Linked DNA regions of Homo sapiens. The protein of the gene in region 1 purifies or fractionates together with the protein of each later gene. This does not show direct contact. Each region holds a gene or a part of one and is shown in the gene's direction. Other genes may lie near its edges. The genes, in order: SARNP, SEPTIN7, PPIG, ZC3H14, PPP2R2D, PRCC and TBL2.

Region 1 (3,500 bases):
GAGAGACTGGTTTATTTTGGAGTTCTGATGTTCTTCTTTTGATAGATATTTATTCTTTAGATTTATGTTAACCACCTTGTTTCATTTGGTTTTAGGAAGAAGAAACAAAGCCCATTGAGCTCCCTGTCAAAGAGGAAGAACCCCCTGAAAAAACTGTTGATGTGTAATTATCCCTTTTTTATAATCTGAGTACAGAGCAGGCAGCTCTTTTCTTAATGTATTTAATGTTTAACTTTGTTTACCTCTTACATGTTCCCATTGGCCTTTTCCTTTCTGATTAGGTCATTTTTTTGTTTTTTAGAAGGGACTACTTCAAAGTACTTGGTCCCAGTGAAGTAAAGCAAATTGTCTCTGAGTTATGTAATAGGTAATGAGGACCAGGTGACTTCAAGACCAGACATAGTTTAATTCTCCTAGCCTTTGTTGTTCTTTTGTAGGGTCACCATAATAGATTATTCTGTTACTCTATAGAGAATCTGTACAATTCTGTATGCAGTGTAAAACTGTGTAAACTCTGTTAACTTTTTTTTTTTTGAGACAGGATCTCACTCTGTTGCCCAGACTGGAGTGCAGTGGCGTGATCTTGGCTCACCGTAACTTCTGCTTCCCAGGCTCAAGCAATTCTCCTGCCTCAGCCTCCCGAGTAGCTGGGATTATAGGTGTGTGCCACTACTGCCCGACTGATTTTTGTATTTTTAGTAGAGACAGGGTTTTACCATGTTGGCCAGGCTGGTTTTGAACTCCTGACCTCAAATGATCCGTCTGCCTTGGCGTCCCAAAGTGCTGGGATTACAGGTGTGAGCCACCGTGCCCGGCCCATTCTGTTAACTGTTCATAAGAGTTTTGCACTTTTCTGGAAAAGTGTAAAACTGAGGCCAGGCACGGTGGCACACACTTGTAATCCCAGCACTTTGGGAGGCCGAGGTGGGTGGATTACGAGGTCAGGAGTTCAAGACCAGCCTGGCCAAGATGGTGAAACCCTGTCTCTTCTAAAAATACAAAAATTAGTTGGGCGTGGTGGAGGGCACCTGTAATTCCAGCTACTTGGGAGGCTGAGGCAGGAGAATTGCTTGAACCTGGGAGGTGGAGGTTGCAGTGAGCCGAGACTGTGGCACTGCACTCCAGCCTGGGAGCCACAGCTGTCTCGGGAAAAAAAAAAAAAAAAGTGTGACACTCTATATAAAGGAGTTTTGTAAGGGAGGAGGGTGTTGGGTAGAGGTTATGTTTCTGAAGTAGCACTCTGTTCTCTCTTGCTTTCTGATTTACAGTGGAGGATGGGAGGACAAAGTGCTAGAATGGAAAGTAGATCTTGATTTGTTTAAACTGTTCCACAAGGGTGATCCTAAACATCTTTAATTTGGGGCTTTTTCCACAAATGTCTGGCCATTTTGTACTATAGTACATTAAGAGCCGTTGAGTCCTAAACTTTGAACATTTTTGTTCCTCATAGTTGTGTTAGTGCATTTAATTATAAAAGGCAGTGTATTTACAAGTAAAAAGTCAGTACATAGTGGAGTATATCAATTAAGAATTAAGTACTCTTTGTATCCATTCTCAGATCTGACTTTACTGAGGTTTTTAGAACAGTACATACTTTTGGAAGATTTTATATATGGGGTCTGTACATGTGTATATGTATGTATGTGTATATATAGATACACGTATACACACACTGTGCACACTTGATTTTTTTTCACATCTGGAAATTTTTTATATCATCATTTTCTTATGTAAGTGTTAGTTATATGCTAGGCATTGTTCTTAAGAGTTATATGCTAGGCATTGTTCTGAATGTTTTACATGTACTGTCATTTTATCCTCAGTAGACCCTGTAAAGTCAGGATAATTATCCTAGGAAGTGGTCTCTTTTTGTTTAGCTTATTATGGGAAATTACAAGTATATACAAAAGTTCGACTAGTGTAATAGACTCTCATCTACCTATCACCCAGATTTACTAGTTATCAACTTAGAACCTTGTTCTTTCTAGCATTTAATAGTATTGCATTCTATGGATAAACAGTAATTTATTTCACCAGTCTTCTGTTGATGGACATTTAGATTATTCATTAAAAAAAAATGTAGTTCTGCATGTCCTTTTCTAATTATTTATACTCACAAGTATACCCACAGGGTAAATTCCTAGCAGTGGATTTGCTGCATCACAGAGGATGTACATTTAACATCTTGATAGATTTTTGTCAAATATCCCTTTATTTATTTATTTTTGAGACAGGGACTCACTCCGTTGTCCAGGCTGGAGTGCAGTGGCACAATCTTGGCTCACTGCAACCTCCGTTTCCCGGCTCAAGCAGTCCTCCAGCTTCAGCCTCCTGAGTAGCTGGAACTACAGGCACGAGCCACTACACCCAGCTCTTTTTTTGTATTTTTTGTAGAGATGGGGTTTCGCCGTGTTTGCCAGGCTGGTCTCAAACTCTTGAGCTCAAAGCGATCCACCTGCCTTGGCCTCCCAAAGTGCTGGGATTACAGGTGTGAGCCAGTAATCACCTGCCTATCAAATACTACTTTCCAGCCTATCAAATACTACTTTCTAAAGCCATTTAGTTATCTTTCCATCATAAGATGTTTATAATTAGATATAGTGCCTTGAAAAAATGACTTTGTGAGATAGCTTTAAAATAGAAATGTTATGGGGATTTCTGGAACAAGAAAGAAGATCAAGTGAATACCATGATAATTGGCTTCTGTGGGTTAAAAAATAGAGGTTCGAAAGTTTGAAGTTCATTATTCATAGAATATTTAAAATGTGCATTCTGTTCAGGGGGCTTTAATTCTATTAATGAATTTTGAAACAAGGAAATTGAAGTGGGTGGGGTGATCGTTTTTGATTTTTAGAGGATAGTTGTGGTTAGACTGAAGTATGTACAAAAAGATTCTGGGTCTCTGTATTTCAGGGAATGTTGTTTATGTGATTGGGTAGGAGAGAAATTTCTCAGTGAAGAGTGGAAATTTCCCATGCATCCCAGAATTCGATGTTTATTTATTGCGCTTGAGTTTAGTTGCCTAAGGGAATTGTAATAGAATGGAAGGAAACTTCCCGTCTGGGGTTCCCTTTCTGCCATGATGTGCACTGCATTGACTGTGCTTCAGAATGGTAATGGGGAGGAAGTCATTACACTGGGGTTGATGGAGAGTACTACTTTCTTGATGGCATTGGATTTCAAGTAAAACATTAAACTTTAGCCTTTTGTGCCTAAATTATAAGACAAGGTTAGGGAAGGATGGCAAGGAAATGGGAAGCGTTTAGAAATTTCTTTAAACGTCAGAATAGCCAGGGCTAGTTTAGATTCCTTGACTATTTAAAAGGAGATCCCCTTCTTCATGTTTGGCCTGAAGTTCTCCAAAAATATACCTGTTTCTAGTTTGATTCCCAACCCCCAACCAGCTAAAGCGGTTACATATCGTAGGACTTCGTTATAGTCAGCAGGGGGCACCCATTGCTTGTCTTCAGTCCAGGGATTTCCAATAAAAGGGTGGAAGA
Region 2 (3,500 bases), on another chromosome or scaffold:
TCGAACCTTATGTTAGGGGTTGGAGGTCTTGGTGTGAGGAAGGAAGACTTTAAAATTAAAGACTGTTAAGTCCGTGTGGCTTTTTCTTACTTTGGATTCATTTATCCTGTACTCCATGTAGCTCGCATGGTTAGAGAGATCTGAGGCCTACTCCTATTTGAGAGGATGTTATCCCCCATAGCCAGAAACCAGGGTGGCTTCCAAAAGAAAAGGGTAGCATTCGGTGACTCTGCTTTAGGCCTTGAGGATGAATCTTTTCTTTGTTTTTGTCTTCCTGTGTCCTTTTGCATCATCAGAGATCTGGAGACTAAGCTTTGAGCATGGGCTTGGGGAAGAGGGGCCAAAGAGGCAGCTTGGCTGGCATTAAGTGTTGAAGGCCGTAGACCAGACACACACTAAATCCTTGTGACTTACACTTGGTGCAGTCCAGCTATCCAGATGTAGGGATTACACATTGGGGTTTGAGTTCAAAATCTTAATAATGATTTAGAACATGGGCTTTGATGTTAGATATGGATGCAAATCTTGGCTTTGCTACTCAATAGATACACCAGTCAGAGTAGGTTAGATTGTAATTTTAAAAACTACAGTTAGGCGTTGTTAACAATACGGTACATTGAGAAATCATAGAGTATTTTACCTACACAAACCTAGATGGTAGAGCCTACTATACACCTGGGCTATATCCTATTGCTTCTAGGCTATGAGCTTGTATAGCTTGTTATTGTACTGACTACTGTAAACAATTATGACAAATGGTAAGCGTGTTTCTTTTTTTGTTTTTTTTTTTTTTTTTTGAGACGTAATTTCGCTCTTGCTGCCCATGCTGGAGTGCAATGGTGCAATCTTGGCTCACCGCAACCTCTGTCTGCCTCCTGGGTTCAAGCAGTTCTCCTGTCTCAGCCTCGCGAGTAGCTGGGATTACAGGTGCTTGCCTGCCTCAGCCTCCCAAGTAGCTGGGGTTACAGGCACTCGCCACCACGCCCAGCTAATTTTTGTATTTTTAGTAGAGACGGGGTTTCACCATGTTGGCCAGGCTGGTCTGGAACTCCTGACCTCAAGTGATCCTCCTGCCTCGGCCTCCCAAAGTGCTGGGATTATAGATGTGAGCCATCACGCCCGGCCAAGTGTTTGTGCTTCTAAGCATAGAAAAGATGATGTGCTGTACTATGAACTTGTGACTGCTATGACATCACAGGTGATATGAATTTTTTTAGCTCCATAGTAATCTTATGGGACTACTGTCATAAATGTCCATTGTTGACCAAACGTTGGACATACTGCATGACTATACTGCAAATAAAAAAAGTGGAAATGGAATAAGAAAGATAAACTATAAGCCCCAATTTTTTATTATTAGTTTCAATAGACATAAAATTATTCTGCTATTAAATTTTCCATTTTTGTGCTCTCAATTTGTGTTTCTCTGACATAAACTGATAATTCACAGACTGGCTCATTGGTCCACAGACCACACTTTGCATAGCACTAGGTTAAACTATGCTGCAGCAACAGACTGTCATGCTAAAGTTTATGTACAGTATTATGTTTTAGGCCAGTGTTAACTTTAAAAATACTATACTTTGAAAGCTGAGAATTAAGTATCCCCTGTGATTGGGGGGATAGCCTGAAGCTGCTCCTGCTTACGTTATTTTGAAGTTTTCTAAGTCTTAAGTATTCATGTGTCATTTGCATTTTATTCAATGTTTGTTTGCTTTATGTGAAATATAAAGATGATATTCTTCCTCCTTCCCCACTGATCTGGAAGTAAAAATGGACTTTCCTGAAGTTGTAACATCTTAATTCTGTTGTTTTGTTTAACTCTGGGACACAACTGACTACTTCTGGTAGCTTTATTGGAGGTGAGGCTCCAGGTCAGAGTTTCTCATTTGAGGTTTTGTAATTATTTGAGGGAGGGGAGGGCTGTCTTGAGCATTGTACAGTATTTACCAGCATCCCTGCTGTCATCGTGCTAAGATGCCAGCAGCACATGCTCTCTCTGGTTGTGAAATGAAAAAAATGTCTACAGACATTGCCAAATGTCACGTGGGGGAGCAGAATCATCCTTGGTTGAGAACCACTGCACTAGGTGATGGAGAGCCATTGAAGGATTGTGGGAGACGGGGAAGAAGGAACAAGCTTCCTTAACTGTCTTACTTTTTACTTCTTCCTGGAACTCCTACCACTTAATATTCTTAGTATTTCCTAAACTTGGGAATCAAAATTACCTAGATTTTTTTGTATTAAAAGTTTATCATTAATTGATATATTTTTGCAAAGCATGATCAGTAATTACTGGACATAGAACATTATGCTAGGTCATTATTTTCTAAAGTATGGTTGAAGGGTCAACCATGGCTTGGAGTTAAAAATGCAGATTAACTGGTTCCCACTACAAGACCCATTGATTAGCAATCTCTGGGAGAGGGACCCAGGAGTCTACATTTCCAAATGCTTTCCGACTTATCAAGTAACTTCATTATTGTATGCTTTCATAGAAAAAAATACGTGGATTTTAAGTATTTAGTTCAATGAATTGCTGATGTGCATACACACATCTTGTAGCCTTTATTCTAATCAAGATAGAGAATACTTCCACCATCCCAGAGTTTCTTGTGCCCTGTTGGAGTTCTCCTTCTACTGCCCCAGGTAACCACTGATAAGATTTCTAATAGCCATGAATTAGTTTTTTTGTTTTTGTTAGTTGACTCATTTAAAGTGTTTTTTCTGGGTAACTTTCTAAAGTCTCCCCATCCCTATAACTTCTTTATTATATAAGATTTCAAATAAAATGAACGTCATGGTGTTTTTCAAAGAATACAGATTCTCATAGTGTTTCACACTTTGATAAATGATAGGCCTGGGATGGGGCCCTGAAAATCTTTGGCTCTGATTGACTGTTTTCAGGAAAATCAAAACTATTTTCCACCAGTTTTGCTGTGCTTTATAAAATATATTTGAAATATTCCTGCAGTGGTAATTTGAAACTTTTGTAAACTTTGTTCATTGATTTAACAAGTATTTGACTCCAGGAAGTATCAGACACTTTGACACCATAGCAATCAAGAAAGCTGTGGTCATGGATGTTATGATGTTTCTGTTTTCATTTCTGAAATTGCTTTTTTAAAACTTTTTTTTTTTTTTTGAAACGGAGTTTCGCTCTTGTTGCCCAGGCTGGAGTGCAATGGCACAGTCTCAGCCACCGCAGCCTCCGCCTCCCCGGTTCAAGTGATTCTCCTGCCTCAGCCTCCCGAGTAGCTGGGATTACAGGCATGTGCCACCATGCCCGGCTGAATTTTTTTTTTTTTTTTTTTTTTTTTTTTTAGATGGAGTCTCTCTGTGTCGCCCAGGCTGGAGTGCAGTGGCGCGATCTCGGCTCGCTGTAAGAAGGTCTGCCTCCCGGGTTCACACCATTCTCCTGCCTCAGCCTCCTGAATAGCTGGGACTACAGGCGCCCGCCACCGCGCCCGGCTAATTTTTGTATTTTTAGTAGAGACGGG
Region 3 (2,778 bases), on another chromosome or scaffold:
CTAATAATATCTACAGTTCTTTTCCTAATAACATTTCCCCAATTCTTTTTCTTATTTTTTAGGAGTGAGTTGAATGAAATAAAAGAAAATCAGAGAAGTCCAGTTAGAGTAAAAGAGAGAAAAATAACAGATCACAGGAATGTATCTGAGAGTCCAAACAGAAAAAATGAAAAGGAGAAGAAAGTTAAAGACCATAAATCTAACAGCAAAGAGAGAGACATCAGAAGAAATTCAGAAAAAGATGACAAGTATAAAAACAAAGTGAAGAAAAGGGCCAAATCTAAAAGTAGGAGTAAGAGCAAAGAGAAATCAAAGAGTAAAGAAAGAGATTCAAAACATAATAGAAATGAAGAAAAGAGGATGAGGTCAAGGAGTAAAGGAAGGGATCATGAAAATGTTAAAGAAAAAGAAAAGCAGTCTGATTCTAAAGGAAAAGATCAGGAAAGGAGTAGAAGTAAAGAGAAGTCTAAACAGTTAGAATCAAAGAGTAATGAGCATGATCACAGTAAAAGTAAGGAAAAGGATAGACGCGCACAATCCAGGAGTAGAGAATGTGATATAACTAAAGGTAAACACAGTTATAATAGCAGAACAAGAGAACGAAGCAGAAGTAGGGACAGAAGCAGAAGAGTGCGATCAAGAACCCATGACAGAGATCGCAGCAGAAGCAAGGAGTACCATAGATACAGAGAACAGGAATACAGGAGAAGAGGACGGTCACGAAGCCGAGAGAGAAGAACACCACCAGGAAGATCAAGAAGTAAAGATAGGAGGAGAAGGAGGAGAGACTCACGGAGCTCAGAGAGAGAAGAAAGTCAAAGCAGAAACAAAGACAAATACAGAAACCAAGAGAGTAAGAGCTCACACAGAAAAGAAAATTCTGAGAGTGAGAAAAGAATGTACTCTAAAAGTCGTGATCATAATAGCTCAAATAACAGCAGGGAAAAAAAGGCTGATAGAGATCAAAGTCCCTTCTCAAAAATAAAACAAAGCAGTCAGGACAATGAATTAAAGTCCTCCATGTTGAAAAATAAGGAGGATGAGAAGATCAGATCCTCAGTGGAAAAAGAAAACCAAAAATCAAAAGGTCAAGAAAATGACCATGTACATGAAAAAAATAAAAAATTTGATCATGAATCAAGCCCTGGAACAGATGAAGACAAAAGCGGATGAGTGAGTTATATAAACTTACTTCCATTCTGTTTCGGATTTTAAGTTTGAGAGACTTGCTAATGAATCTCCTTTATGTTGTTTTCCTTTTCATTGTTTTTGGATTGTTTTATGTTTGTCCTTTTTTTTCTTAATGTGGATTTCATTGAGTTGATTTTTTGATAATCTGCAATCTGGATAATTTGTACTGCTAAAGTTTTAATAAACTCGACATGAGAAAAACACTTTGGTGTAGTACTGTGTGCTGTGTTTAACTATTTTATGTATGCATTACTGTGTTGCAACAATTAGCCAATAGCATCCTAATTTGTTTAGTCAGCCATTTGGAATGGTTGCAATGCATTGTTGCAAAAGCTTGTGTTTCTCATGATTAAAGTAACTTTAGAAGCCACTAGAAGACATCTTGTATAGATTTTCTGATTGCGTTATAAATAGAGGTTTGCAGCGGTTTCTTTTAATTACACAGAAGCAGGGTCCTAATAACCTGAGATCTTAAATCATCACTTTTGATTTTATAGTAATTTGTGCTTTAAAATAGATGTATTTATATTGCACTTCATACTCTATTCTTTATAGTTCGAGCCATAGCTTGTTTCCTATTAATGCTTTTCCTGTCTAGTTGTGTTTTACTTAACTGCCTATAAAAATCGTAAGAGTAATTTTTTTCAGTTGATGTACTGATTGAGCTTGAGTTGCTGTTATACAGCATTTGACAGGAACTATACCTTGGAAAATCAGATTGTGATTCTCAGTTCTGTGTTGCTTTTGGTTTGAAGAGTTTTGGGAACGTTTTAATTATTAATTACCCTTCTCTAAACTTTAAAAAAAAAAAAGCTTTTCTCATTAAAACATACCATTTGTGCAGGTCCTTAAGCTATACAGATTCTAAAAATTGTTAGTATTGAGACATTAACTTCTAAGATTTCTCTTTTTTGGCCTCCAACCTATATAGAATTGAGTGTTAACTCTGCATGGATTTTGTTTGTTTTAATTGAACTGACTTCTCTAACTCTCATAGCTGTGAGTTCCAAATGGCAAGAAAATGCATCTTTTCTATATATGTATCACGATAGGCTATAGCATGTTTATGACTCTGGTTTCTTTCTCTTCAGGTGGTTTTATACCATTACTGTTAATGTTATTTTAACTTGGCATGTATAACATTGCCATATAGAGTAGAGTAGAAAGTTGCAAATTTTGATAGTTTACAGAGTTAAACACTAAACATATCCAAAGTCCATTTAGAGTTTTGGGTGTTGTATTTTGCCATTTTTGTGATGTGTGGCCTTTTATTCTGTAATCTCTTCTAAATAAAACATTGAACATCCAGCAAACATAAAACCTGCCTCATTTGAAAAGGAATTTCAAAATTCCAATTAATAGGATTCTCTAGAGAGTTTTGTACTTTAATATTTGTCAGTGTAGTGTCAACTCTGTTACCAAGGTAGCTTCTTGGTAAATCCAGTAGCTACTCAATGCTATTTGTACTGAATAAAGCAATTATTAACATGATACTTCCCACTATTGATTAATGCAATATTGATATATTTGGCGTTGTGGTAGCTGTTGCAGAATGAATAGTGTAATGACCATAAGATTGCTTGGAAA
Region 4 (3,500 bases), on another chromosome or scaffold:
TGAGGATGAGGGCTGGAGGATAATGATGTAGCTGAGAATAGACAGACGAAATACTTTATTAGGCTTCTCAGGCTAGGAACTACCAGTTACCGTGAAAGGTGATGATGTAGCAGAAGTGAGCAAGTGGCCTGCCGAATTTGAGTGCAAGAGGAGGCACTGAGTGGGGAGATGAGCCTGGTTAAGTTCTTGCCTTTATACCAAAGGTCGTCTTCAAGGTGTTTTTGCCCAAGTAGGCAACTGTATGCTTATCAACCGTCTTGAAATTCTGCACAGAATTCTCTGGGTTTATACATTGCACAAATTTGAAGAACATTGTATAGTGGTCATCAGTTGTTATGATACACTGCTGCCTCACTGTGGGTGACCCAACCCATTTGTTACAATTTGTCCCCAGAGGTTATTCCCTCCCAGCCCCCCACAAAAAAAGACTGTGGGTCTTTTGACTGGGAAAATTACCATTATTGTGAGTACTATTTTTTTTTCTAAAGCGACCGAGTAGATCCTTTTCTCCGATAACTTGATAGAATACTTAGATTTTTAAAACAGACTACCAAATGAATTTAAAACCAAATTAATTCAACATTCTCATCTGGCCATAAATTGAGTTCTTTAACATGTAGTGAAGCAAAGGGTGATGTCCCCATTTTGGCACTTTGCTTTCTTAAGTTAGTGTTCATTAACACCAGCCCCAAACAGACTATTGTGATTATTTGGAGCCTTGAAGTAATTGTGTCCGTGGGGACAGTAGCATGTGACTAGGGTTCTCATTGAAACATGAGGTTTCTGGCATATTTTGAGAGGTACTGGGAAGGGATGTAAGGCAAAGTACCTCATTTATAACTACCAAAACAGGTTATGTTACAAGCAAGATTACAGCCTTACAGCATCAGTTTTGAAAGTAATAGAGTGAAATGATATAGCATAGTTTGAGATTATAACTTGTTTTAACCTCTCAGAATTAAGTTGTCCAAGACACCATCTAGTTTAAGCAGTTAATATAAGCTGCTTAAATGGTGGTAATAATAAGCAATATTACATGTTTATGATACTTGTTTTACTGTAAGCTACAGTAAATCTTTAGTACTTACAAACAGGGTGACATATTTTGTAGACTAAGACTGGTCAGATGATATTCTTTCCCATATTTTTGCAGAGGCTAGATGTTGAAAACAGTGAAGAAAAAAATACAATTTTTTATTGACTTCTGTAGGATTTATACAAAGCCCTTTTTTAAAAATGTGAAGTTTGAAAGTTCATACCATTTATTCACTAAATACAGTTTATCAGTATTTATCTCAGCTAGGTGCGGTGGCTCACGCCCGTAATCTCAACACTTTGGGAGGCTGAGGCAGGTGGTTCTCTCAAGTCCAGGACTTCAAGACCAGCCTGGACAACACAGTGAAACCCCATCTCTATTTAAAAATAATAAAAATATAAAAAAATTTAAAAAATTATCTCTGAATATAATGTCATAAATTTAGAGTGACAGTTGAAATGAAATCTTTCTTAACAGAAGGTTTATTTTTGTTTTTTGTTTTTTTCCTCAGGCTTCATGGTGTATTAGATAAACTTCGCTCTGTTACAACTGGTAAGATTCATAACTTTTTTTTTTAATTTCTGCTTGCTATGGCATATGATTTGTTTCTTTCTAAAGTCATAGTGCTTTGGGAAAAACCCATCAATTTCAAAACGGTTCATTTGAACTTTTTTAGAAAGCACATACTTTTATGAACTTAAGAGCAGTAAATTTAACATAATTCAAAGATAATTTAAGTGTGGGAGAGGGAGCAGTGCACTTTATCCGAAGGAAATAATTACATATATGTGCAAAGATTTAGCCTCAAGGATATTTCAGTATTTTATAATTGAAAACAATTTAAAAGTTCAGTCATAATAAACGAAATTGTTGTATTACCATGTGTGGAATAATATTTAACTATTAAAAATAATGTTGTGGAAGAATAACAGAATATACACGCATAAGATACATGTTTTAAAAAATGTGTATATATGCTCTTCCCCCGAAAAATCACCTTTGAGATAATTGGTGATTTTTATTATATTTTTAAAATTTTCTACAATAAACATACTGCTTTTGAATTGGTGATGAGGAAGGAAACGACTTAAAGTAATAAAAATAGATGGCCGGGCACGGTGGCTCACGCCTGTAATCCCAGCATTTTGGGAGGCCAAGGTGGGCGGATCATGGGCTCAGGAGATGGAGACCATCTTGGCCAACCAACATGGTGAATCTCCGTCTCTACTAAAAATACAAAAATTAGCCAGGCATCGTGGCACATGCCTGTAATCCCAGCTACTTGGGAGGCCGGGGCAGGAGAATCGCTTGAACCAGGGATTTGGAGGTTGCAGGGAGCCGAGAACGCGCCACTGCCCTCCAGCCTGGCGACAGAGCGAGACTCCATCTCAAAAATAAATAAATAAATAAAAATAAGAAATAAAAATAGATTAAAAGGACTGTATTTTTCTTTTCAGAACCCTCTAGTCTGAAGTCTTCTGATACCAACATCTTTGATAGTAACGTGCCTTCAAACAAGAGCAATTTCAGTCGGGGAGATGAGAGGAGGCATGAAGCTGCAGTGCCACCACTTGCCATTCCTAGCGCGAGACCTGAAAAAAGAGATTCCAGAGTTTCTACAAGTTCGCAGGAGTCAAAAACCACAAATGTCAGGTAAGAGTCTGGTGTAGACCTGCTGGGGGCAGATGGCTCTGTGTATGTGACATTTATATTAGTTTTTATATCTTTCAGTTTGCTGTTCTCAGCAATTTTTAGAAACAATGAAGTGATCGTGAGTAGTTTTTTGAATAAAATAATGGATAAGATCTAAGTATGATTATCTTTTATCACAAATTTAGTAAATCAAAGTTGAAAGAAAGTGCAATTTCAAAGCAGTTTTGAATGGAATATGTAAAGGGAGTATCCTCAGTTTTTTCATTGAAATTTTTCAAGTAAACATTCTTTAAAGATTTGGTGATAATTGCCCTAATTTGGCTGTAATACATTTTGTTGTTCTTTTAAATAGACAGACTTACGATGATGGAGCTGCAACCCGACTAATGTCAACAGTGAAACCTTTGAGGGAGCCAGCACCCTCTGAAGATGTGATTGATATTAAGCCAGAACCAGATGATCTCATTGACGAAGACCTCAACTTTGTGCAGGAGAATCCCTTATCTCAGAAAAAACCTACAGTGACACTTACATATGGTTCTTCTCGCCCTTCTATTGAAATTTATCGACCACCTGCAAGTAGAAATGCAGATAGTGGTGTTCATTTAAACAGGTTGCAATTTCAACAGCAGCAGAATAGTATTCATGCTGCCAAGCAGCTTGATATGCAGAGTAGTTGGGTATATGAAACAGGACGTTTGTGTGAACCAGAGGTGCTTAACAGCTTAGAAGAAACGTATAGTCCGTTCTTTAGAAACAACTCGGAGAAAATGAGTATGGAGGTTTGTATGTACTTTTAAATTCTGGCTTA
Region 5 (3,500 bases), on another chromosome or scaffold:
AGGCGGGCGGATCACGAGGTCAGGAGATCGAGACCATCCTGGCTAACAGGGTGAAACCCCGTCTCTACTAAAAAAAATACAAAAAATCAGCTGGGTGTGGTCGCGGGCACCTGTAGTCCCAGCTACTGGGGAGGCTGAGGCAGGAGAATGGCATGAACCCAGGAGGCGGAGCTTGCAGTGAGCGGAGATCACGCCACTGCACCTCCAGCCTGGGCAGCAGAGCGAGACTCCATATCAAAAAAAAAAAAAAAAGATTCACAGACTCATCATGCTTAGTACAGCCACATCTTAACGCTCAGGAGGCTGGCCTGGTCATCGTTACATCGTGAAGTTAAGTTTACAAGATATGTGGTGGTATTGAATCATACCTGGTGATTTTCCACGTTCCCTGATTTTAAGCAGTCTGCTGTTCTGATGGGAAGTTCCAGGTTGGGTTTGTGTCTGCTGTTTTCAACTCTGAGGGCCCCTTTCTGAGCTTCAGCTCGCTTATCTAGAAGTTAAATCAGAAGCTTTTTGTTAAGATCAAACAATGTGCAGTGCTGTTGCAACTTGAAAAGTGCTTTTCAAGTATTAGATACAACTGTTAATTCTCTTGTATTTTAAAGTATTGGGGCTTGGTTTTAGCTATATTTAAACACAAAAATAGCAGTTTCTTGTTTTTCCTTACCTGCTTCATGTCCATCTACCCAGATCCCTTCCACTGGGCCTGGCCTCTTAATGTTTACGTTATTATTCAGTGATTATTCCCATCCCTTGATCTTTGCTCCTGTTTCTTTCTTTGCCTAGAGTATTTATTTTGCTTCCTGTCCATTCCCTAAGCCCTGCTGATCCTTCTAAATCCACCTCCAATCCCACTTGGCGAGTCCCTGCTCCAGCTCCCCTCAGCGTTCAGTGTCGTCTTAGACTCCAGATTTCCCTTTCACACTGTGTTCCATGTTGTTTAGCAATTGGCTGTGTCCTGCTTGTGGTTCCCTTATTTTATCACATGTATTATTAGGCTCGTCTCTCCCACTGGATGTCAGTCAGCATATGGAATGTCATGATATTACCAGGTGATGGAGAGGAATTGTGCACGTGGAATTTGGTACACATCCCTTTTTCACCCTCTTCAGGCTTTGTGTTAACTTGGGAAGTTACTTACTCTTTTCTCATCTGTTAAACGGGTACTATTACTTGTGACCATTACAGGGTTGCTGTGAAGATTCCAGAAAATGTATGGAAAGCTCTGACAAACAAACACGTTAACTGGTAACTGTTCAGAGGCTGTTGTCTTAAGAGACCCTCTTGCATAGGAAAATAGCTGACTCTGTCACTTCAGGGAGCCAGTTTAAGAAAAATGAAGGGTAATGCAGGGGCCAGCTTTCAGCTTGGCACATCTGAAAAGTTCACGACAGCATACCAAAGGGCTGCTAGTGCTGGCTGTTGGAAATAGAAATGCAGTTCTTGCCTTCAGGAAACGCTGTTTGGACACAGACAAGCAGGTGGGTCCTTGCACCATGGCTGGACCAGAGCACACTGAGGCAATGTGAAGAAGTACCCAGTACACAGACTTGGGTAGGGAGTGGAGGGGAGGACATCAGGGTATAAGAAGAGGGAGGAAGGGAAGGGGAGGAGAATGTTCCAGGTGGAGAGTGCTTGGTGTGGAGGTTGGACAGAGCATGGTATGTTCTGAGAGGTCAGTGCTTGGCATGGTCCTCTGGCAGAAAAGGGAGTGGCTGTGATGAGCAGGAGGCTGGCTGGGGCCACAGGATGATGAATAAAGGACTTGAATCGTGTGCTCAGGACTCTGAGTGATTGTGAGCTTTTCAGATCCTAAGCGGAGGAGCGACATCAGCTTTGTTTTTAACAAGGTCACTCTGCCCTTTGGAGAGTGGATGGTGGTGGGTAAGAATGGAGATAGGAAGTTACTGCAATAATAAAGATTGGGAAAATGGGCTTACTCTAGTTTCGGGGTGGCCAAGCTTTTTTGTAAAGGGCCAAATGGTAAGTATCTTAGACTTTCAGGCCATCCTGTCCCTGTTGCAACGACTGAATTCAACTCTGCCTTTAGCAGGAAGACAGCCATAGACCCTGCAGAGATGGATGGGCGTGGCTCTGTGCCCTGCTTCCACAGGAGCATGCCTACAGAAAACAGGCAGCTGGCCAGATGTCGCCCAGGTTGTGGTTTGCTAAACCCTGACCTAGAGTTGGTTTGCAAAGTCTTTTGGTGCTGGAATAATTTTATACTCTTAATAGTTATATTGAGGATCCAGAGAGCCTTTGTTTGTGCTGGTTATCGCTGTTGATGTTTTCTATATTTGAAATTAAAACAGAACAACTTACAATATTTATTTTACTTTAAAAGAATCTACTACATGTTAACATAACCTTTTTAATGAGAAACAACTTTTCAAAAACAAAAAGATTAAGCAAGAAGAACAGTGTTGTTTTACACTTTTGCACATCCTTTTAAAATATGAGGTTTAAGAGGTGACGGCTGGATTCTCAGACCTGCTTCTGCATTCCGTGTGTTCCAGTTGCTTTATTGAAATGTGTAAGGAAAATGTGGCGTCACACTTCCATGTGGGCAGAAGAGGGGTCATCCTGGAGGCTCTTAGCGATGCACCATAACTCGCCAGGTGGCAGCGTGTTTGAGTGTGCCGGCCTTTCGGAGTCAGTGACGTTTCTGTACTCTCTTCCGTCAGAACCCTGAGGTCTGTCTTGTGCTCAGAGTGGGTCTTTTGCTCATGGACATGATTTGGTAACATCACACGGGGGTTGTTTGGAAATATTGTTACATGGAGTTGTTTTTTTTTCTAAATGTTAACACATTCCATTATGTAAACTTGAAGAAAATCCTATTTTTTAATGTCATCACTGATCTCATCAGAAGAAAAAGTGAGAAACTGTCAAATTAGCAGTAGTAGAGAAAAGTTTTCCAAAATTCTAATTTTCTCTTGAAAGCTTGGATTTTATCATTGGTAACAAATACTGTCAGTTACTTTCTGTGAAGTGAGGGACGCAGTGTGTTCATTTTCAAGTCAATTTCTGCCAGATACCAAATTCTTAATAACCAAAGTTGGTCAGTTGTTCTTTCAAATAAAAATGGCATTCCATGAAAAAAAGGGCTAGTTCAGCTTGTGTGATACTGTGGAATATGTATTTGGTCTTCCCTAGTACACAACTCCTAAAATCCTCGGGCTCGTCAGTGATGTCTTCGTAATGCGTTGGCTAAGGGCCGGCAACCCCTGGGTAGCTTCAGAACAGGGGCTGGTCACCAGAAAGACCTAGGCAGGATTAGAAGGTTGGGACTTTCAGCCCCGATCCCCAACCTCGGGGAGTGGTGAGGGGTGGGGGAGCTGAAGGTTAAGCTGATCACCAGTGGCCAAACAGTCTTGCCTATGTATGGACTGGGTTTGAAGATAGCTTCCAGATGTTTCTGGAGGGGGGCCCACCCAGAGAGGACACGGGAGCTCTGTGTCTCAGCCCCCGTCCCTCGCCCTGTGCATCACCTCAGTGTC
Region 6 (3,500 bases), on another chromosome or scaffold:
ATCTAGAAAAGTCAAATTCATAGAGATGGAAAGTGGAATAGCAGTTACCAGGGGCTGGGGGGAGGTGGGGATAAAGAGTTACTGTTTAATGGGTGCGGAGTTTCTTTCTTTTTTTGAGTCACCTTTTTTTTTTTTTTTTTTTTTTTTTTTTTTTTTTTTGAGACAGAGTCTCTCTGTGTTGCCCAGGCTGGAGTGCAGTGGCTCAATCTTGGCTCACTGCAACCTCCGCCTCCCGGGTTCAAGCAATTCTCCTGCCTCAGCCTCCTGAGTAGCTGGGATTAAGGCGCCCGCCACTACACCCAGCTAATTTTTGTATCTTTAGTAGAGACGGGGTTTCACCATATTGGTCAGGCTGGTCTCGAACCCCTGACCTCGTGATCCGCCCGTCTCGGGCTCCCAAAGTGCTGGGATTACAGGCATGAGCCACTGTGCCCAGCCCTTTTTCTTTTCTTTTTTCTTTTTTTTTCAATGAAACAGGGTCTCAGTCTGTTGCCCAGGCTGGAATGTTGTGTCTCGATTATGGCTTACTGCAGCCTCTACCTCCTGGGCTCAAGCAACCCTGCTGCCTCAGTCTCCGCAGTAGCTGGGACTACAGTAATGTGCCACTGTACCTGGCTATGTTTTTAAACAATTTTTTTGCTGGGCATGGTGGCTCACGCCTGTAAACCCCGCACTTTGGGAGGCCGAGGCTGGTGGATCACGAGGTCAATAGTTCAAGACCAGCCTGGCCAAGATGGTGAAACCCCATCTCTACTAAAAATATAAAAATTAGCTGGGCGTGGTGGCGCATACCTGTAATCCCAGCTACTTGGGAAGCTGAGGCAGAGAATTGCTTGAACCCGGAAGGCAGAGGTTGCAGTGAGCCAAGATCGTGCCACTGCCCTCCAGCCTGGGTGACAGAGCAAGACTCTGTCTCAAAAAAAAAAAAAAAAGGCCGGGTGCAGTGGCTCATGCCTGTAATCCCAGCACTTTGGGAGGCTGAGGTGGGCGGATCACGAGGTCAGGAGATCGAGAGCATCCTGGCTAACACGGTGAAACCCCATCTCTACTAAAAATACAAAAAATTAGCCAAGCGTGGTGGCGGGTGCCTGTAGTCCCAGCTACTCGGGAGGCTGAGGCAGGAGAATGGTGTGAACCCGGGAGGTGGAGCTTGCAGTGAGCCGAGATTGCGCCACTGCACTCCAGCCTGGGCTGCAGAGGGAGGCTCCATCTCAAAAAAAAAATTGTTTTTGTGTGGAGATGGGGGTCTTACTATGTTATCTGGGCTGGCCTCAGACCCCTGGGCTCAAGTGATCCTCCTGCCTCATTTTTCTTTCTTTTGTTTTTTTTTTTTGGAGACAGGGTCCTGCTCTGTTGCCCAGCCTGGAGTGTAGTGGCACAATCTTAGCTTACTTCAGCCTTGGCCTCCTTGGCTCAAGCAATCCTCCTACCTCAGCCTTCTGAGTAGCTGGGATTACAGGCACATGGCCGATTTAAAATTTTTTTTTTTTTTTTGAGACAGAGTCTCGCTCTGTCGCCCAGGCTGGAGTGCAGTGGTGCAATCTCAGCTCACTGCAACCGCCGCCTCCCGGGTTCAAGTGATTCTCCTGCCTCAGCCTCCCGAGTAGCTGGGACTACCGGCACCCGCCACCACCCCCGGCTAATTTTTGTATTTTTAGTAGAGATGGGGTTTCACCATATTGGCCAGGCTGGTCTCGAACTCCTGATCTTGTGATCTGCCCACCTCGGCCTCCCAAAGTGCTGGGATCACAGGCGTGAGCCACCGCACCCGGCTAATTTTTAAAATTTTTTGGTAGAGATGAGGTCTCTCTACAGTGCCCAGACTTGTCTCAAAACTCCTGGGCTCAAGCAGTCCTCCCATCTGGGCCTCCCCAAATGCTGGGATTATAGGGGTGAACCACTGTGCCTGGCCATCCCCGCCTTGCCTCATTTTTGAAGTTGTCATTTTAGTGTTCTGTTTCAGGGAGTCTGTCATTTATGGTGTGTCATGAGATGATTCATAATAGGGGTCGGTAGAAGTTTTATATAAGATGTTCGGGCTGGGTGTGCAGTGGCTCATGCCTGCAATCCCAACACTTTGGGAGGCCAAGGCAGGTGGATTGCTTGAGGACAGGAATTTGAGATCAGCCTGCGCAACAGAGTGAGACCCTGCCTTTTATCTCTACAAAAAAATTTTAAAAATAAAATAACTGAGCATGGTGGGCAAGTGCCTGTAGTCCCAGCTACCTGGGAGGCTGAGGCAGGAAGATTGCTTGAGCCCAGGAGTTTGAGGTTACAGTGAGCTGTAATTGCGCCACTCTACTCCAGCCTGGGCACAACAGAGCAAGACCATGTCTCAAGGGAAAAAGATGTTCAAAGAGAAGAATGATTGTGAGTAGCCATAGCAATCCTCTAAATCTAGAAATAATAGACTGTTCCGAAGTCTTTATAGAGGTTTTTTTTTTGTGTGTGTGCTTTTAAACTATAAACTCAGGTTGTCAGTATAATGGAAACAATTTGTGACATTTACAGAGAAATTGAATTTTCTTTCCACAGTGGATCTGGCCTTCAATTCTATTAGCTGTGGAGCAGTTTGCCTATTACAGTCTTACAGTAGCCACTTTTTGTTTTTCAAAGGATCTGAAAAATAAGAATATGCTTGTATAGTTTTATAAATGTAATCATCTTAAATTTGGGTAAAATTTGTTTATTTCAGATTATTGCCATTGGACCTGTTGCCTATGATGTCAAAGTTTAAACGTATTTGGGGAATCCATGAAAACCTTATATACCCCATAGTGAGGTTGTTCTGTGTGGTCTGCCAGAAAGGAGATAAGTCTTCATGGTCAAAAGACGAGAGATGGTGAGGAGTCTGTAAGGAGCAATGAGAGTTAGTTTAGAACAGAAAGAAAAGGTAGAAAATGCTTAGGTGCCAGGTGCTTAAGTCTTTTCTTGGGTGAGTTTGATATCTTGGCAAACCAGAGAAAATAATAATTTTTGAACTTTGTTTAGAATTTTAGTTTGTATCATTTTCACTGGCAGTAGCTCCTGTGGTTGTGACATGGGTAAGTACTATTTGCACCTTAGGCTTGGGGAAGTTAAATAGCGGGATCCCTTAGCCAGTGAGGGGCAGAGCTGAGACTCAAACCAGTGCTTCTGATTTTGTGCTTCATGCTCTCTCAGCTGTGTCGTGTGGGATCTAGTGAGTGTGAATCTCAGACCTGGACAGCAGACAGCTCAGTTTGGTGTTCCCGCAAAAGCACGGGCACTGGAACTGGTTCTGATCCTGGTTCTGCCCCATCCTATTTTATCTCTCTGAGCCTTACTTTCTTCACCATAAAGTTGAGATAATAATAATGCCTACTTTGAAGTGTTATTATAAGAATTAAATGAAAAATGAGTAAATTGCCTGATACATAGGAAGCACTTGGTGGATGGTTGTCCTTTCCTTTGCCACCCTTTTCCTTTATCCCCCACATTTAGATACTAAGATGGATTTCCCTTACGGGTTAAAAAAAAAA
Region 7 (3,500 bases), on another chromosome or scaffold:
GGCTCACGCCTGTAATCCTAGCACTTTGGGAGGCCGAGGCGGGTGGATCACAAGGTCAGGAGATTGAGACCATTCTGGCTAATGTGGTGAAACCCCACATCTACTAAAAATACAAAAAAAAATTAGCCGGGCATGGTGGCGGGCGCCTGTAGTCCCAGCTACTTGGGAGGCTGAGGCAGGAGAATGGCGTGAACCCGGGAGGCAGAGCTTGCAGTGAGCTGAGATCACGCCACTGCACTCCAGCCTGGGTGACAGAGCGAGACTCCATCTGAAAAAAAAAAAAAAAATTAGCTGGATATGGTGGTGCACGCCCATGATCCCAGCTACTTGGAAGGCTGAGGCACAAGAATTGCTTGAACCTGGGAGGCAGAGGCTACAGTGAGCGGAGATCACGCCACTGCACTCCAGCCTGGGCGACAGAGCAAGACTCTGTCTCCAAAAAAAAGAAAGAAAGAAAAGAAAAAAAAAACCAAGGTCCAGAGCAATTCACTAACTTACCCAAAGCAGGGCCGCTAGAGATGGTTGTGCACATTACTCCCTACATAGGGATGTCTGGCCAAGGATCCACACTCCACTGGCCGTGCTGTGTACCCGCCCAGCAGCATCACCCAACCCAGAGAGTGCGCCTTTTCCACTCTACATGAAGGTGCTCTGTGGACTTACTGTAAACAGCCTCCTCAGTAGTCAGTCAGTAGTAGAGACAGAATCCAAACCCAGGTCTGATTCCAAAGCCTCTGTTTTGTTTCTGTTTTCTGTTTGTTTTTTTTTGAGACAGGGTCTTGCTCTGTCACTCAGGATGGAATGCAGTAGTGTTGTGATCATAGCTTACTGCAGCCTCGAACTCCTGGGCTCAAATGATCCAAAGCATTGGGATTACAGGCATGAGCCACCATACCCAGCCAGCCAAAGCCTCTGTTTTTGCCCATATCACACTCATTCTCCTCCAGAAGACAAGGGCCATATCTGGTTAATCTCCTGCTGTTCCACTCAATGCCTGGCTCATCATAGGTGGGCAGTAAATGCTTATCAGTGAGTAACTGGAGAACAACATGGCCCTTCCTTATAGGCCAAAAAGCAAATGGATTTCCACCTGACAAATCTTCGGGATCCAAGAAGCAGAAACAATATCAGCGGATTCGGAAGGAGAAGCCTCAACAACACAACTTCACCCACCGCCTCCTGGCTGCAGCTCTGAAGGTACGTGGGGTACCTGGCACAGCGTGCACCCTGAGACTCAGCCCCACAGGCTTTTCCTCTGGAGTATTCCATGCATGTTACAGGCTCTCCTGCCTCTGATCAGAATCAGCGGGGGTGCTTAATTCTGTCCCCTCTCATCGCAGCCCAATCTCAGCTTGCTGTTAATCCAGGCCACAGGGCCCCATCTCCCCGGCTCCAGGTTTGGCTTCCCCATCTCCCCCAGGAGCTCCTATTGACACTTCCTGCCACCCTTCCCCTAGAGCCACAGCGGGAACATATCTTGCATGGACTTTAGCAGCAATGGCAAATACCTGGCTACCTGTGCAGATGATCGCACCATCCGCATCTGGAGCACCAAGGACTTCCTGCAGCGAGAGCACCGCAGCATGAGAGCCAACGTGGAGCTGGACCACGCCACCCTGGTGCGCTTCAGCCCTGACTGCAGGTGGGACAAGACGGAGCCTCAGGTTTGCCTGCAGAGGCCTAGTCCCAGGCTTTGGCCTTCCCATATCTGCTTTGAGGTAGTGAGGAGGGACCTGGACCCAGGGCCTCCCTTGGGGTGCCAGAAAGAGCATCCACATAGTTTGCGCGCTGCCTGGGGCTCCCTGGAGATCTGGGCTGCTATACAGCAAGGAAACAGGGGGAGGTCTCTTCCTACCTGGAAATACCTTGGCCTGGCTTCCAGATGAGCCTTAGTTTCTAAACCCTAGAGAGAAACTAAAGGAGCCAAAGCTATCAGAATCTTACCTTTTGAGGAGTTTTATGAGATTTGGAACCAGGGGCTTAAGTTTTAAGGCTAGACTGTGGGGCATGAGGAGAGATCTTGACTTCCCCGAGAACCCAGCACAGGACCTGGAACACAGAGCCTCTTTGTCCAGTGAGAGCGTGACTTGTCTGCTGCCTGTCTCTAGAGCCTTCATCGTCTGGCTGGCCAACGGGGACACCCTCCGTGTCTTCAAGATGACCAAGCGGGAGGATGGGGGCTACACCTTCACAGCCACCCCAGAGGACTTCCCTAAAAAGCACAAGGCGCCTGTCATCGACATTGGCATTGCTAACACAGGTAAGAGGCATTCAGAGGGTGGCGCCTGCCCAAAGCATGAAGGAAAGATCCAGTTCTATTTCCTCAATGAGTTAATGCTGCCTGAAAGTTCTGCTCAACCTGAGAGGAACAAGGGGTCCCTGGCTCTGAACAGCCTGGCTCTGTGCTCCCCTGGAGTCCCTGGGCCACACCAGGTCCCTAGGGAAGGTGGGGAAGGGCCACAGTCTTCAGCAGAGTCCTTATCTGTAGTGACCCTTGGCCTGGGAGGAGACATGTATACTTCGGGCAGCAGAGGCCTTGTAAGTGTCTTTGGAGAGTGACAGTTGGTCAGGTCACTGCCCGTGACCCACATCACTCCCTTCCCGCTCAGGGAAGTTTATCATGACTGCCTCCAGTGACACCACTGTCCTCATCTGGAGCCTGAAGGGTCAAGTGCTGTCTACCATCAACACCAACCAGATGAACAACACACACGCTGCTGTATCTCCCTGTGGCAGGTGGGCAAGGAGGGGTATTGGCGTCTGGGACCACGAGAGGCTGGGGCTGGGGAGCAGGCACAGAACAGAGAGCCAGCTTCATCGCGTGGGAAGAGCATACGGGGTGGGGTCAGGAACCCGAGCTTCAAGTCTCAGCTCTCCCCACTTGCAGTAGTGGGATTTCATGCAGGTCGCCCCATGTCCTTAGTCGCTATTTCTTCATCTTCAGTGTTTTTGTTTTTTAGAAAATTAGTCTCACTCTGTCACCCAGGCTGGAGCACAGTGGTGCGATCATAGCTCACTGCAGCCTCAAACTCCTGGGTTGTAGCTATTCTCCCAGCTCAGCCTCCTGAGTAGTCAGGACTATAGGCATGTGCCACTGTACTCAGCTAATTTTTGTTTTTTGTTTGTTTGTTTGTTGAGACGGTTTCACCCTCGCCCAGGCAGGAGTGCAGTGGCGCAATCACAGCTCACTGTAGCCTTGACTTCCCAGGCTCAGACCATCCTCCCACCTTAGCCTCCCGAGTAGCTGGGACTACAGGCGTGCACTACCACACCTGGCTAATTTTTGTATTTTTTGTTGAGATGGGGTCTTACTATGTTGCCCAGGCTGGTCCTGAACTCCTGGCCTCAAGTGATCCTCTTGCCTCGACCTCCCAAAGTGGTAGAATTACAGGCGTGAGCCACTGTGCCAAGCCACCTTTGGGCGGGGATGTTACATATCTTAGAACAAGGCTAGAAGATAAACTGAGGTCACATACATAAAAGAACTTTTTTGTTGTGGT

Evidence for each region.
Region 2: the proteins of SARNP (region 1) and SEPTIN7 purify together in Homo sapiens (affinity purification with mass spectrometry, with the first as the bait; one large-scale study listed by BioGRID). This does not show direct contact.
Region 3: the proteins of SARNP (region 1) and PPIG purify together in Homo sapiens (affinity purification with mass spectrometry; 2 studies listed by BioGRID and IntAct, with this or other methods). This does not show direct contact.
Region 4: the proteins of SARNP (region 1) and ZC3H14 purify together in Homo sapiens (affinity purification with mass spectrometry; 2 studies listed by BioGRID and IntAct, with this or other methods). This does not show direct contact.
Region 5: the proteins of SARNP (region 1) and PPP2R2D purify together in Homo sapiens (affinity purification with mass spectrometry; 2 studies listed by BioGRID and IntAct, with this or other methods). This does not show direct contact.
Region 6: the proteins of SARNP (region 1) and PRCC purify together in Homo sapiens (affinity purification with mass spectrometry, with the first as the bait; one large-scale study listed by BioGRID). This does not show direct contact.
Region 7: the proteins of SARNP (region 1) and TBL2 fractionate together in Homo sapiens (co-fractionation; one large-scale study listed by BioGRID). This does not show direct contact.

Annotation. Positions count from the first base shown.
Region 1 is NC_000012.12:55,797,225-55,800,724, reverse strand, and holds part of SARNP (SAP domain-containing ribonucleoprotein), read left to right. Parts: intron 1-95; coding exon 96-163; intron 164-3,500. UniProt on the Homo sapiens protein: Binds both single-stranded and double-stranded DNA with higher affinity for the single-stranded form. Specifically binds to scaffold/matrix attachment region DNA. Also binds single-stranded RNA. Enhances RNA unwinding activity of DDX39A.
Region 2 is NC_000007.14:35,804,057-35,807,556, forward strand, and holds part of SEPTIN7 (septin-7), read left to right. Parts: intron 1-3,500.
Region 3 is NC_000002.12:169,636,351-169,639,128, forward strand, and holds part of PPIG (peptidyl-prolyl cis-trans isomerase G), read left to right. Parts: intron 1-62; coding exon 63-1,173; 3' UTR 1,174-2,778. UniProt on the Homo sapiens protein: PPIase that catalyzes the cis-trans isomerization of proline imidic peptide bonds in oligopeptides and may therefore assist protein folding. May be implicated in the folding, transport, and assembly of proteins.
Region 4 is NC_000014.9:88,569,537-88,573,036, forward strand, and holds part of ZC3H14 (zinc finger CCCH domain-containing protein 14), read left to right. Parts: intron 1-1,547; coding exon 1,548-1,588; intron 1,589-2,493; coding exon 2,494-2,689; intron 2,690-3,041; coding exon 3,042-3,471; intron 3,472-3,500. UniProt on the Homo sapiens protein: RNA-binding protein involved in the biogenesis of circular RNAs (circRNAs), which are produced by back-splicing circularization of pre-mRNAs.
Region 5 is NC_000010.11:131,907,508-131,911,007, forward strand, and holds part of PPP2R2D (serine/threonine-protein phosphatase 2A 55 kDa regulatory subunit B delta isoform), read left to right. Parts: intron 1-3,500. UniProt on the Homo sapiens protein: Substrate-recognition subunit of protein phosphatase 2A (PP2A) that plays a key role in cell cycle by controlling mitosis entry and exit. Involved in chromosome clustering during late mitosis by mediating dephosphorylation of MKI67.
Region 6 is NC_000001.11:156,774,035-156,777,534, forward strand, and holds part of PRCC (proline-rich protein PRCC), read left to right. Parts: intron 1-3,500. UniProt on the Homo sapiens protein: May regulate cell cycle progression through interaction with MAD2L2.
Region 7 is NC_000007.14:73,572,080-73,575,579, reverse strand, and holds part of TBL2 (transducin beta-like protein 2), read left to right. Parts: intron 1-1,066; coding exon 1,067-1,197; intron 1,198-1,457; coding exon 1,458-1,642; intron 1,643-2,108; coding exon 2,109-2,260; intron 2,261-2,609; coding exon 2,610-2,736; intron 2,737-3,500.